Linked DNA regions of Homo sapiens. The protein of the gene in region 1 interacts with the protein of each later gene in a biochemical or structural test. Each region holds a gene or a part of one and is shown on either strand. Other genes may lie near its edges.

Region 1 (3,500 bases):
TATGCTGGATGGATAGATAACTTTTGAAACAAAATATTTAATGCATTTTAAATGGTAGAAGGAAGAATGGTTAGATATTTGGCCCAATGTAAAAATCCCTGCTGTTTAAAAATACTTGTTTTTTTTTGTAGTCCTTCTTTACAGTTTGAAGCTGCATGGGCTTTGACAAACATTGCATCTGGAACTTCTGAACAAACTCAAGCAGTAGTTCAGTCCAGTAAGTTGGTTATTAATAAACATAATTGTGATTTTTTTTAAAAGAAGTCGGTAAAAAATAGTGATCTTCCCAAAAGACTATGGCAATTTAAATTATAAAATAATAGCTACTACGTAGTTATTGAAATAGGTCAACTTAAGTATGTTACTTTAATCTTCTTATTCTGGTGACTGATGTTTTTTGTATTTCCAAAAATTCACTTGATTCCTTTCTAAATATGAGAACATTTCCTAATTATAGTAGCAGATTACATTATTATTGTTACACTTTATTTATAGGACATCAGTAGAAATAAAGGAGTTTTTCCTGTTGCCACATTGCCTCTCAGCCTCTCTTTTTTTGTTTTTGTTTTTTTGTTGTTGTTGTTTTTCTTTCTCAGACAAGATCTTACTCTTTTGGCCAGGCTGGAATACAATGGCACAATCTCAGCTCACTGTAGCCTCGGCCTCCCAGGCTCAAGAGACCCTTCCGCATCAGTCCACCAAGTAGCTGGGACTACAGGCATGTGCCACTGTGCCTAGCTAATTTTTGTAATATTTTTGTGTTTTTTGTAGAGACAGGGTTTCACCATGTTGCCCAGGCTGGTCTCTAACTCTGGGCTCAAGTGATCAACCTGCTTTGGCCTCCCAGTGTGCTGGGATTATAGGCATGAGCCACCACACCGGGCCTCAGCCTCTCTTAATGAGATTTTTCTCTTTTTTTTTTTTTTTTTTTTTTTTTGAGATGGAGTCTCACTCTGTCGCCCAGGCTGGAGTGCAGTGATGCGATCTCGGCTCACTGCAAGCTCCACCTCCCGGGTTCATGCCATTCTCCTGCTTCCGTCTCCCAAGTACCTGGGGCTACAGGCGCCCACCACCACGCCCGGCTAGTTTTTTGTATTTTTAGTAGAGACGGGGTTTCACTGTGTTAGCCAGGATGGTCTCGGTCTCGATCTCCTGACCTCATGATCCGCCTGCCTCGGCCTCCCAAAGTGCTGGGATTACAGGTGTGAGCCACCACGCCCGGCCATATCATATATTTTAAAGAAATCTTCTATAAAGTAGTCCTAGTTGAAAGAATGGCTCGAATTTTTTTTTCATTGTTATTATAATAGGATTGCTTTTTTTTGTTTCAAGAAATGTAAGTGGAAAATTATTGGAAGTAAGAACCCGAGTGTATTGTCTTCATGAATAGTATTTGATTGTTCTACCAAACAAAGAAATTAATAATTTTAAAGAAGATACTTTTAAAATCCTCTTTAAATATGTAAGCAGCATACTTCTCTGAGCTTATTAAAAATGTAAGCACTAATTTGTACATTTTGAAGGGGAACAAAGATGTTATCCAAATAATCATTTTACTGTAGACACTTATGTTGTAATATTACTTAGAAAAGATAATTACCTCACATCCTATTAAAACTGGTTTGGTTTTGGGTTCAGGTGGTTTTTATTGTGGTTTTTTGGTTTTGTATAGCTGACTCTTAGGAAAATTTTTGGTTTCATAACAATGTTTTATTCCCTCTCACACTTTTTCCTTTCTGTTATGTATGCTCTCTAAAGATTAGAAAGAGGCTTAGAATTTTTTTGACCCTGCTAGTCTGCTTTAATATACCAAAAATAATAAATAAATAAATAAATGAGGTTGGGCATGGTGGCTCATGCCAGTAATTCTAGCACTTAGGGAGGCTGAGGCAGGCAGATTACTGGAGTCCAGGAGCTAGAGACCAGCCTGGGCAACATGGTAAAACCCCATCTCTACAAAATGCAGGAAAAAAAAATTAGCCGGGCTTGGTGGCATGCACCTATAGTCCCAACAACCCAGGAGGCTGAGGTAGGAGGATCACTTAAGCCAGGGGAGGTCAAGGCTGCAGTGACCTGTGGTGACACCACTGAACTCCAGTCTGGGCAGCAGAGTAAGGCACTATCTCAAAAACAAACCCATAAGTGAATTACCTTTTATGATATTACAAGCATGATTGAGCTACATATACTTAAATAGTGCTTTTTAAAGTAATATCAGAAGGAAAGAAGAAGAATCATTTGTTCAGTGCAGTATTTTGTTCAGATACAGACCTATCTCTGTTTCCCATCCTGTTGAGTAACAGAATCACTTTCTGATTCGGAAGATCCCACATGGCCCAGGAATCACTGGCCTGTCTTAAAGACCCACATGTTGTTAACATAAATTTGTGTTCAAAAGTTACTTCAGGCCGGGTGCAGTGGCTCATGCCTGTAATCCCAGCACTTTGGGAGGCCAAGGCAGGCAGATCACTTGAGGTCATGAGTTTGAGACCAGCCTGGCCAATACGGTGAAACCCTGTCGCTACTAAAAATACAAAAATTAGCCAGGCATGGTGGCTCACACCTGCAGTCCTAGCTACTTGGGAGGGTGAGGCAGGAGAATCACTGAAGCTTGGGAGGCAGAGGTTGCAGTGAGCCAAGATTCCACCGCTTCCCTCCAGCCTGGATGACAGAGTGAGACTCCGTCTCAAAAAAACAAAAAAAAAGTTACTTCAATAATGTACTTTTTTTTTTCAAACTACAGATAATCTATAAGGAATTAATCTTGAAATTAATTCCAGGTTTAATTGTTAATGAAATTTCACAAGCCTAATTTAACACTTGTCTGGATAACTCATTTTGATACTGAGTAAATAGTCACTGGTCAAAATTCTTCCAATGATGCTATTCCAATAAAATTCATTTAATGAGGTTATATTTTAAGTATATTTTTATAGGTTCCCTTTTTTTTGAGGTCTCAGCAAAAAAATAAAGATTGATTTTTGGTTTATGGTATCTTCAACCTTAAGTATTGTTATTTTTTCTTCCATCAGATGCTGTGCCACTTTTCCTGAGGCTTCTCCATTCACCCCATCAGAATGTCTGTGAGCAAGCAGTGTGGGCATTGGGAAATATCATAGGTTTGTATAAAACTTGTAATACTAGTCTAAAAATTGTTATCATATACTAAGTAATAAAAATAGCTACTAGTAATCCAAAAGAGAAAACAGTTTGCCTTCAGTACTAGTTTTTGTGAAATAGCTTACAGAAATTTGAACTGTATTACTGTAAAAGCATAAAGTCATAGTAAATAGAATTTTTGTTGCTTAAGATACCATTTTTTTGGTATATAGTTAGCTCTTAATTATTTGAATAATTATGCAAGATGTATACAATTTAGACCTTCTGTCTCATGCTAGGATCCATTTTTTCTTCCCCTAACCCCCATGTTGATCAGTGGGGTCCCTTTTTATTTCTCAGCTTTCTCCATCAAAGAAAGTAACAAGAAAAAAGACAAAACT
Region 2 (3,500 bases), on another chromosome or scaffold:
AGGAGAAACAAACAAATCTATAATCAGAGTTGGGGTCTTCAATGTCCCTTTCTGAAGAGTTGAAAGTATTACTAGCCAGAAAAGCAGCAAGCAAACAGAACTCAACACCACCACCAACTCTCAGTATGTAAGTGACATTTCTAAAAAACTCTACCCAACAACAGCAGACTATGCATTTTTTTGACTGACTGCAAATGATACTGTATTTTAAATTTTGGTGTCCACGTATTTATGGCTAGCACGCAGAAATAATAAATATTGTTTGTTTTTATGCAGGTATAAATCTAACAAAAACAGAAAATTTATACACTGAAAACTGCACAATGCTGATGGACGAGAAAGGAATGAGCCATTGATACAAGCAAACATGGATGAATCTCCAAGAATTATGCAGAGCGAAAAAAAGCCAATCCCAAAAGGCTACATACTGTATAATTCCATTTCCATTTCCATAATATTGTTGAAATGAAATTACAGAAATGGAGCTCTCTAGTGGTTACCAGGCAGCAGACAAGTGGGTGTGGCTATAAAAGGGCAACAGAGGGATCCTTACAGTGCTGGAAATGTTCTGTATCTTTTTTTTTTTTTTTAAAGCAATACCCATGGGTTATTTTGGCAGTTTCTGAATGCATAAATGGAATAGACATATTCAGTTTCTGGCAGAACTTTCACAGTGATTTCTAACCTTTAGAGTGCCAACTGAAAAATCACATGATTTATAAATTTAGAAAGGAGACTTTCTTTTCTTTAGAGATAGTCTCAGTTGCCCAGGCTGGAATGCAGTTGTGTGCTCACAGCTCACTGCAGCCTCGACTTACTGGGCTCAGGTGATTCTCCCACCTCAGCCTCCCAAGTAGCTGGGACCATAGGTGTGCACCACCACACCTGGCTAATTTTTGTAGTTTTTGTAGAGACAGGGTTTTGCCATGTTGCCCAGGCTGGTCTCCAACTCCTGGGCTCAAGTGATCCGCCTGCCTTAGCCTCCCATCCTGACCGTGATATTATACTACAGGATTTTACCATTGGGGGAAGCTGGGCAAAGTATATAAGTGATCTCTCTATATTACTTCTTACAACTACATGTGAATCTGTAATTATCTCAAAAGAAAAACTTTAATTAAAAAAAAGCCATGGTCCTGGTGAGGAAACTTTTTGCGGGTAATGGAATTGTTCTCTATCATGGTGGGATGGTGGTTGCATCTTTATACATTTGTTAAATCTCATTGAATTGTACCACCTAGTGAATTGTGTAGACATTATGCCTCAATAAAGTAACAAAATTCCCACAGCCTGAGATTTCTTTGACCCTGCCACAATGCATGGTGGGGTCCTGTCCCCTCCCTTGTGGCTACTGGATGCTGAGGTACTCCAAGGCTGGTCGGGAGAGCCATGCAGTGGCTGCCCGGGTGACTGGAATATTCATGCTGGAAGCCTGAGCAGTCATGTTGTAAGGAAGTCACATTCAATGGAGAGACCCTGCAGGTGCTTGGCTCAGTAGTCCTGGTTTGGAGCCCTCCCAGCAGATGTCTGAGCCATGCTTCCAGTTCTTAGCCATTGAGTCCCCACCTGAGGGCCCAGATATCACAGATCAAAAAGATGTCATCCTCACTGGGCTCTGCCCAAATTCCTAACCTACAGAATCCATGAGCATAAGGAAAAGGTTGTTTTAAGCTGCTAGGTTCTGGAGTAATTTGTTAAACATCAGTAGGAACCAAAACAATTAAGTCTAGTTATTCTCCTTATTTTACAATGGCACACAGAGGTTAAGTCACTTGCCTACAGTCACAAAGCTGTTATAGCAGATACAAAATTTGAAACCCGTGACCTGAGCCACGATATTATAGCACCTGTAGATTAAGTATAATTATGGTTATTTTTATAGCGGACTCTCATCTTTGCTGGGGTCCAGCTCTAACATCCAACCTTTAAAAGACAAGTAAAAATGATTCTCGACCCCATGTCTCCTCTTTTCTTTACAGCAGAACTCTTTTTTTTTTTTTTTTTTTTTTGAGACGGAGTCTTGCTCTGTTGCCCAGGCTGGAGTGCAGTGGTGGATCTCAGCTCACTGCAGGCTCTGCTTCCTGGATTCACACCATCCTCCTGCCTCAGCCTTCTGAGTAGCTGGGACTACAGGCTCCTGCCACCATGCCCGGGAAATTTTTTGTATTTTTAGTAGAGATGGGGTTTCACCGTGTTAGCAGGATGGTCTCAATCTCCTGACCTCGTGATCCACCCACCTCGGCCTCCCAAAGTGCTGGGATTACAGGCGTGAGCCACCACGCCCGGCCTATAGCAGAACTCCTTAAAACAATTATTTATAACCTATTGTCTCTAAACCTCTTTGAATGTGCACCCTTATTAATAAAAATATTTCATTCTTTTCTTTTTAAGAGATGAGGTCCTGCTCTGTTGCCCAGGCTGGAGTGCAGTGATGTGATCATGGATCACTGCAGCCTCAACCAACCTCCTGGTCTCAAGGCATCCTCCCACTCTAGCCTCCCAAGTAGCCGGGCCTATGTGACCATGCTACCATGCCTGGCTAATTTTTATTTTATTTTTCTGTAGAGACAGTGTCTTGCTATGTTGTCCAGTCTGGTATAAATATTTCTTTTTTTTTTTTTTTTTTTGAGACAAGAGTATTGCTCTGTCGCCCAGGCTGGAGTGCAGTGGCGTGATCTTGGCCCACTACAACCTCCGCCTCCCAGGTTCAAGCAATTCTCCTGCCTCAGCCTCTCGAGTAGCTGGGATTACCGGCATCTGCCATTGCTCCTGGCTAATTTTTGTATTTAGTAGAGACAGGGTTTCTCCATGTTGGTCAGGCTGGTCTCAAACTCCTGACCTCAGGTGATTCACCCGCCTTGGCCTCCCAAAGTGTTGGGATTACAGGCTTGAGCCACCACACCAGGCTGGTAAAAATATTTCTAAGAATATACCTCTAAAAAGCAGCCGGGCACGGTGGCTCACGCCTGTAATCCCAGCACTTTGGGAGGCCAAGGTGGGAGGATCATGAGGTCAGGAGATCGAGACCATCCTGGCTAACACGGTGAAACCCCGTCTCTACTAAAAATATAAAAAATTAGCTGGGCGTGGTGGCAGGCACCTGTAGTCCCAGCTACTTGGGAGTCTGAGGCAGGAGAATGGCATGAACCCAGGAGCTTGCAGTGAGCCGAGATCGTACCACTGCACTCCAGCCTGGGCGACAGAGCGAGACTCCGTCTCAAAAAAATATATATATACCTCTAATATACACATACTTAGTTATAAATCATGCACAGGTTTTAATTATATAAAAAGTATTCTTCTCAAGAATGCTTAATGTTATTAAAATCAACGCTCTAGACCTAATTTACAGATCATAGAAAATGCAGGGATAGAGAAGCAAGTTAAAGTACTCCATGAAGAAACAAGTAGTAGTAAATATTAGAAAAGAGAACTGGCCTTCAATGTCATTAAAAACAAAAGAAAAAAAAGAGGTAAGGTATGGTTCTAGGTTAAGACAG
Region 3 (4,032 bases), on another chromosome or scaffold:
AGGTCGTCTTTAGAGCCTGCTACAGGCACTGCCGACCAGGGGCTGGGCTCTGGGCTCCACGGTGACAGGAACTGCAGGCACCGGGTCCCCCCTGGCTCTCCCAGGAAGGAACATGCCCTAGCTCATCCTGCACACTCACATCCACATTCCCCAGCCCAGAAGACTCTCCCCACTCCAGGGAGGCCTGGGCCTGCTACATTGTTATACCTCAGCATGAGATCAACACCTGAGACAAGCTCCAATCCAAGATGAGCTCATGACTCCCGCCCCAGAGAACCAGCTCTCCAACCCTCAGCAGCATTTGCAGCTGGAAAGATTGGTCTAAATGCAAAACAAATGCTATCTTCAGGAGACTTCAAGGGGGAGGGAGAGGAACAAAGCTAAAAACCACCAAGACAGAAAACCAGAACATTCCATGACATGCAATGCCCTACGAAGAGGTTTTTTAAAACATATTCGCACTGTATAGCCGTGGCAAGGGGTTAGCTGTCAAAGTTAAACAAAAATCACTGACTCTCAAAAGACAAGAATGAAGGACTAAATAATAAAACAGCTTATTGTATTAAGCTAATTAAGGTTTATCATATTAGCCATCTGAGTTTTAGTTGACATCAGAAACGCAGAAGCAGCACACCACGCGCAGCGTGGATTCGGATCTGCTTTGCAAGCATATTCCTGCCACACTCATACACAGAACCTCTGGCAGTCAGAAATGATGGAGAATTGAAAACCAATTTTAGCACAGTGATTTGTAAAGAATTTTGTTCCATCATGTAAGCTATTTACTGGTATATCCGTCCAAGATTACATTTATCTCTATTAAATACTCCATAAAGTATCCTGAGCTAACCATGCACTCTTGTTTCCCTTTTGCCAGTTTTATCACATAGTGGATGTTCTGTAGCCAAATGAAAAACATTTTAACAATAAAACCCTTGCATACTTGACGTCCTTCACTGCAGATATCCTGCCCACCAACTGCCAGCACACAACTTAACCAATTCCAAGATCCTCGGCACTGCTGAAAAGCCCCTATTCTGCTGAACACGGAGAGGAACAAAATGCCCACTTCGAAGTAGGGGAAAATTTTATTTTCAGTCATGTCTTCTATGGGCTCCTCTTGACTGTACTTTTACCAAAAACCAGCAGAAAGGCAGGACCAGTTCTATCTGTTGTTGAGATCACACTGGATCCCATTCTGGAGCTGCTGGTTTCCTGTTTGGGGAAGTTGCAGTTCTTTTCACAAGGAACCCAAGGCAAAATGTTGAGTGTTCTCCTGCAAGCCCCCTCAGCCTTTGTTCTTCACTTTGCTACTCTCCTCACTCCTTCCTTCTCTCCTCTCCTCTCCAACCTCTGGTTTTGGAAGGTGCATTAAAATGCCTGCTCAAACCTAACTGCGATCTTTAAAGGCATCAGACATTTTCTACCACCCATTCCAGTACAGCTTTGAGTTAACAGGCATCTTTTCACAGATGAAGCCAGACTACCCGGCTTCCCCCTGGTATTGCATTAGTATTCCACATTAAACATATGCCACAAAGAATCCAATGGCGAACTCACCGTCAACAGCCCCCAAAATCAATAAAAGACATTCCACCACTTGAGTCGGAGTGAAAAACCTTTCAGGTTAACACAAGAGAGCAAGGTAAAAGAAAGGTGATGAATGAACAAAAGGCAAATCTACCTTCAGACTCCTCAAATCCTAAAAAGGTGGCTAGGCTGCCTCGATTTGGTGAAGCCCTTCCTTTTCTTATAATCATCGGGAAAATGCCACATGTGTACTGCTTTCGTCTTATGCAAAACAGCACATTCTCCACAAGGCCCTGACGCCTACCATTCTCCACACTCGCTTCCTTCCAGGCCTGACTCTCCCAATTGCCCAGACACATGCGATTTAATGAAGGCATTCAGATTTCGCCTTGATCGCAATACCATCATAAAGTCACTCTAATCCCATTAAACTGGGATAACATTAAGAGCATTTCTTCTCCACTCTGAACCCAATTTTATCTCCTGGGTAGCAATCCACGGTCCGTCTGTGTCTAAATGGATCTGCAAATAAATATTTAAATTCATGCTCAAAACAGCGTATCTCACCTTGTGAACCTTGACCTTTTGGAAAGACTTTAGACCAATGTTCAGTTACTGTCACACGGCTGCATTCTCAGCAAATAGGAAAGGGTTAAAAGCAGCCCCAGTCAACAGGCCTACAAGGAAAAAAAAGACAGCATGTATGGCTAACAGCATCACTGGAATGCATTTATGTTCATTTCCTAGAACGATATTGTTACCTTTTGGCCTTCATAATAGTCAGAAGCATCCCCAACACCCTTTAGTAGCTTCTAAAAGAAAAAGCACAAGACAGAACATACCCTGCAAGAGAAAAAAAGCATGCAAAGTAGCATTCTCCAGCAACAAACAAACTACCATTACAAACCCCTCAGTTCATTTTGGTTTTGTTTTGTTATAAACACCGAGAAAGAGAGAGAGAGACTGCATCAACCAAGTGTCCCCACCCTAGCAAGGCACATTTTTTTCTCTAATAAGGGTCATAAATCTCAGCTCCTTGTCCATCCCTTAAGCAAAAGAAAAAGGCAGGAAAAGCCCAAGTAATCTCAGACCCTGCAAACCTGCACCTTTTTTTCCATCTTCTCTACCCAGAATCTTTTAGGGCTCCATTAGTCACGTACCAGTGCTGTGTGGTGTCTAAGTGTGCATTCACATACTGTGTAGGGATGGTACCTTCCTGCAAGCTCCTCTGCTTTTGGCTGCCATGAAGGGAGGAAGCTGCTATCCTACTGTAGTAGCTCAGTGACTGCATTGTGTTCAGGAGCTGATCTGCCTCAAACCAGTTTCAGCCGGTTCTGGTCACCCTACATAAAAAAGCTATGGCAACCCTCGCTGAGTTGCCAACAAGTCCCTGAAAATCATCAGCACAGGGGGGATCTCGCTGGGGTTTGCTCTTCCCTCTTAGGTCTTCCTGAGGAGGAGAAGGTCATCGTGTGTCCCCCCACCCCACGAGCACACAGCCTTGGAAATGCTCACCTCGCAAGCACCCCAGAGCCCCTCAGGGCCCATCCCCCCTCCCCTCCACCCCACAGCCCACCGCAGACACTGTTTCCCCCTCCTTCTCCTTCCCCCACTTACCTCCCACAACCTGGCTCAGATCTTTGTGTACGTGTGTGTCAGTGTGTGCTCTCTGTGTTGGTGGCTGACAAAGAGCCCCCAAGAAAGCGAGCTATGTGTGTCTGCTCACACGGGATGCGTCGGCTGCAGAGCCGGCCTGGCCTCCTAGCACAGTGGTGCTGGCTTGTTGACCAGGCTCCTCTCTGCTGTCACCCCCACCCCACCCAGCCCCCTCCTCCCTTCCGTCCCTCTCCTCTCTCTCCCAGCCCTGTCACCACCACCAGCAGCCCCCCAGTCTCCTCCTCCTCCTCCAACCTTCTCTTCTTTCAAGCACCTGGGGGGAGAAGTCCAAATCCCTTCACCTCGGGGGAAGAAAACTGGGGCTGTCTGGGGAGGGGGCGGGGGGCGAAGGCAGGGCCAGTGGGAGAGGGGGCACGGAGGCCTCTGGAAACGCATCTGTGCCCGGCCGGCGCCGGCGGGGGGAGTAGGAGAGCCGCGCTCACGTGGCCCCCGTCTCGTAACCTGCGGGGCCTAGCCCGGGCGGTTCCTCCTCGGCCCCCCAAGCCAGCTGGCGGGGCGCGAAGGCCGGCTGTCCCCAAGGCCAGGGTGGGACAGGCCACTGCGGGCAGGCCCAGGGGCCTGAGCCTCACGCGCTCACCCCGGCCCGCAGGAGTGGGCACGAGGGGCCGCACCCCGCCTCTGCCCGGCGCCCACCCGCGCCCCTGGGTCCGGCTGCCCTGCGCCCCTCGTTCGCCCCGGCCGCCTCCCGCCGCCCCGCACCCCCAGAGGCGCACACCCACCCCCTTCCCGGGGTTGGCCTTCGCGGCGGTCAAGCCCGGGCGTCTGGGCCGCAGCTCGGATGACCTTTGTTCAGCGCGGCGCCGCCGGCGGCTGCTGCTGTGGCTG
Region 4 (3,500 bases), on another chromosome or scaffold:
TAAGTTTTCTTGTAAAACAACCAATAACTGTCATTTACTGAGTGTGTACCTTGTGCAGGCACCTACCAGTTCTGCTGGATTCCAGAGGCTGTGATTTTTTTCTTCCCTGCTCAATGCCAAGTTTGGGAAAAGCAGGAAAATGTAACAGTTAAGAATATGAGCTCTAGGGCCAGCCTTTTTAGGTTTCTACCACAGCTCAGCCTTCTATTATCTGTGGTACCTTCAGTGAGTGCTTCAGCCTCTCTCTTCTTTGCCTCCCGATCTGTAAAATGGGAAGAATAATGATACGGACACCTCATGGGGTCGTGTGAAGATGAGTGGAAAGAGTAGAGCATTTCCAAAAGTGTCTTGCACAAGGCAACTACTCAATAAATGCAGCTGTATCATCATCATAATTCCTGGTAGTATCTCTCTGCTTTGACGTAAAAGCGGAATTACCCTCTAAAAACCCTTACCGTATCACTGGCTCCTCAAGTGCTTCTAGTCTGTAGTTATCTGTTTCTGTGTGCTTAAATATAAAACCAGTTCTACTTTCAGGTGTGCCGTAACGCAGAGTTGTCTGACAGACATAGGCACCTTTCCCATCACAAAAGCGTACTGTAGATTTGCCAGAAAGCTCTAATACTAAGATATCTGCTTTGTTTGTACCTCCAGGTATCAGAACTGAAGACAGAACTGAAGTTAAGGGGTCTGCCAGTGTCAGGCACCAAACCGGACCTCATTGAGCGCCTAAAACCCTACCAGGAAGTGAACAGCAGCGGCCTTGCTGCTGGGGGCATCGTGGCAGTGTCATCATCAGCCATTGTCACCAGTAACCCAGAAGTCACTGTGGCCTTGCCGGTTACAACACTACACAACACTGTGACTAGCTCAGTCTCTACTCTCAAGGCAGAATTGCCACCTACAGGAACCAGCAACGCAACCCGTGTGGAAAATGTTCATTCCCCTCTGCCCATTTCACCATCTCCCTCCGAACAGTCCAGTCTCAGTACTGATGACACAAACATGGCAGACACTTTCACCGAGATTATGACCATGATGTCGCCTTCACAGTTCTTGAGTTCATCTCCTTTGAGAATGACAAATAATGAAGACAGTCTGAGTCCCACCAGCAGCACTCTGTCAAACCTGGAACTGGATGCAGCCGAAAAGGATCGCAAGCTTCAGGAGAAAGAGAAGCAAATCGAAGAGCTGAAGAGGAAACTGGAACAAGAGCAGAAGCTCGTGGAAGTGCTGAAAATGCAACTTGAGGTTGAAAAACGAGGGCAGCAGCAGCGGCCCCTGGAAGCCCAGCCCAGTGCCCCAGGTCATTCTGTCAAGTCAGATCAGAAGCACGGCAGCCTTGGCTCCTCCATCAAAGATGAGGCCTCACTCCCTGACTGCTCCAGCTCCAGGCAGCCCATCCCAGTAGCCAGCCACGCTGTAGGCCAGCCCGTCTCTACAGGTGGCCAGACCCTTGTTGCCAAAAAGGCTGTAGTTATCAAGCAAGAGGTCCCTGTGGGCCAGGCAGAGCAGCAGAGTGTCGTCTCGCAGTTTTATGTGAGTTCCCAGGGACAGCCACCGCCTGCTGTTGTTGCTCAGCCCCAGGCTTTACTGACCACGCAGACTGCTCAGCTGCTGCTCCCAGTGTCCATCCAGGGCTCGAGTGTCACCTCAGTGCAACTCCCTGTAGGCAGCCTCAAACTCCAGGTGTGAAGTGTGTCTTCTAACTACTTTGCCTTACAGCATGCATGGAATGCAAACCCTGCTAAGGAAGGCACCATACCTGAGCTCTTCCATAAATGCGTCCAGAGCAGACCCCACGGAGAAAACGTATGCATGTGTGAGAGGGTTATTCAGAAATCTGAATATCTAGCACTGTTTTTATATAGTGAAAAAAACACAGGATGCTTTTCTAGTCCTGTTACCTTTTCCCTTGAATGAACACAGTATCATCCATGCAGACATTTTTTTACACACCAGTGACGTGATCATTGTGATCATAGTCTGCCGCTGAGCACTTTCTGGCAAGGCACAGCATCTAGTACTTTAAATGGCCGGCTTCACTTAATCCTCCCTTCTCCTAGAAGATCTAAGTGATACCACCCATCTCTGGATAAGGACGCTGAGGCCTAGGAGTACTCAGGGAGTTCCCCCAAGGATGGAGCTGGCATTTAAACCCAGGTGTTCTGCCCGCAGAGCCTTTATTCTTATGCCCATTCTTATATTCTGCCTCCCACATTTAGTTCTTGAAAGTCACTGCTTATATGAAGATGTCTAAACTAAGGAAAACATGACCACAAATTTAGGAGTGAGGATGTAATTGAAAGAGATGAGAAAACACTGATGAGCATGAAATTCCCTTTTGTGCGTACATAACCTATGTATTTACCGTGTCATGCAGTTTTGGTAAGTTTTCACCAAACATGGAGCACGAGTGAACAAGAAACCATTTGAAGCAGTGCTCCTCAGCCTCGACACCCAAATACCTGAAACAGGCGAGAGGAATCATCTCGTACCCCTGTGGTTAGGAGGCAGGGCCCACAGACCCTTTGGCAGATGCAAAAATTCTGATTCCTCTGTTTTATCTTTAGGGTATCTGTGAAATTGAAAGTCTATTCCATAATAAATCCTTAAATTTTTTGGTCCAAATCTTCCATTGCTGTAGTAGAAACGAGAACCGTGTTTTTATCCTTGGGTCTGAGGGCGCCCTGGCCCCATTGCTGGCTCTCCCTAGGGAATGCACACACCGCTTGCAAGCAGCAATTGGGACAGTTAGGTCTCACGAGTTGCCTTGCTGTTATTCAAGTATTACAGTACCTGAGCTATTATGTGTAGAACTGCCTTAGGTTCTTATTATTTCCATTTCCATTTTCTCAAAATTTTCAAATGAAAAATCTTAGCTACTTAGGAATAATAAGAGCATGCAGTGACTGGTCTGATGTTTCCCTCTCTGGTTTAGAATCATTAAAGTTCAGATTTCTGTGCAGATGAAGTGTGTATCTGTAACCTTGGTCTTATTTCATTTAGATACAATCCCCAAGTGACCAGTGATTCTACACCTAAGTTCTGATTTCTAACTTTGATTCTGACAATTAAATTGATGTTTTTTTCAATTCACCTCCTAGACTTCACCACAAGCAGGAATGCAGACTCAGCCTCAGATAGCAACTGCTGCACAAATACCAACTGCTGCCTTGGCCTCAGGCTTGGCCCCAACTGTACCTCAGACACAAGACACGTTCCCGCAGCATGTGCTCAGTCAGCCTCAACAAGTCAGAAAGGTTTGTAAATGCCAAGGAGCAATAGAATGTCGCTGATTTTTACCATCCTCCGATCATCCATTCAACAAGCATCTTTGTAAACGCCCTGGGAAGTTCCTGTTCATTCTTTTCTGTGATCCATCTCCCATAGAATGAGCCTTAGGTCAGATGCCATTTGGCTGCAGATTTCCCAGTTATTTGGAATGGAGAAAGACCTTTTCATTACTGAAAGATAGCTCGCCTTCGCAGTTAACCCCT

Evidence for each region. The genes of interacting proteins can lie anywhere in the genome.
Region 2: the proteins of KPNA4 (region 1) and CDC45 interact in a biophysical measurement, tested with the Homo sapiens proteins (one large-scale study listed by IntAct).
Region 3: the proteins of KPNA4 (region 1) and ZNF532 interact in a test that uses a peptide from one of them, tested with the Homo sapiens proteins (one study listed by BioGRID).
Region 4: the proteins of KPNA4 (region 1) and MRTFB interact in a test that uses a peptide from one of them, tested with the Homo sapiens proteins (one study listed by BioGRID).

Annotation. Positions count from the first base shown.
Region 1 is NC_000003.12:160,527,572-160,531,071, reverse strand, and holds part of KPNA4 (importin subunit alpha-3), read left to right. Parts: intron 1-131; coding exon 132-217; intron 218-3,032; coding exon 3,033-3,119; intron 3,120-3,500. UniProt on the Homo sapiens protein: Functions in nuclear protein import as an adapter protein for nuclear receptor KPNB1. Binds specifically and directly to substrates containing either a simple or bipartite NLS motif.
Region 2 is NC_000022.11:19,486,420-19,489,919, reverse strand, and holds part of CDC45 (cell division control protein 45 homolog), read right to left. Parts: intron 1-3,500. UniProt on the Homo sapiens protein: Required for initiation of chromosomal DNA replication. Core component of CDC45-MCM-GINS (CMG) helicase, the molecular machine that unwinds template DNA during replication, and around which the replisome is built.
Region 3 is NC_000018.10:58,863,645-58,867,676, reverse strand, and holds the start of ZNF532 (zinc finger protein 532), read right to left. Parts: upstream 2,801-4,032; 5' UTR 2,292-2,800; intron 2,208-2,291; 5' UTR 2,098-2,207; intron 1-2,097. UniProt on the Homo sapiens protein: May be involved in transcriptional regulation.
Region 4 is NC_000016.10:14,245,819-14,249,318, forward strand, and holds part of MRTFB (myocardin-related transcription factor B), read left to right. Parts: intron 1-654; coding exon 655-1,689; intron 1,690-3,107; coding exon 3,108-3,263; intron 3,264-3,500. UniProt on the Homo sapiens protein: Acts as a transcriptional coactivator of serum response factor (SRF). Required for skeletal myogenic differentiation.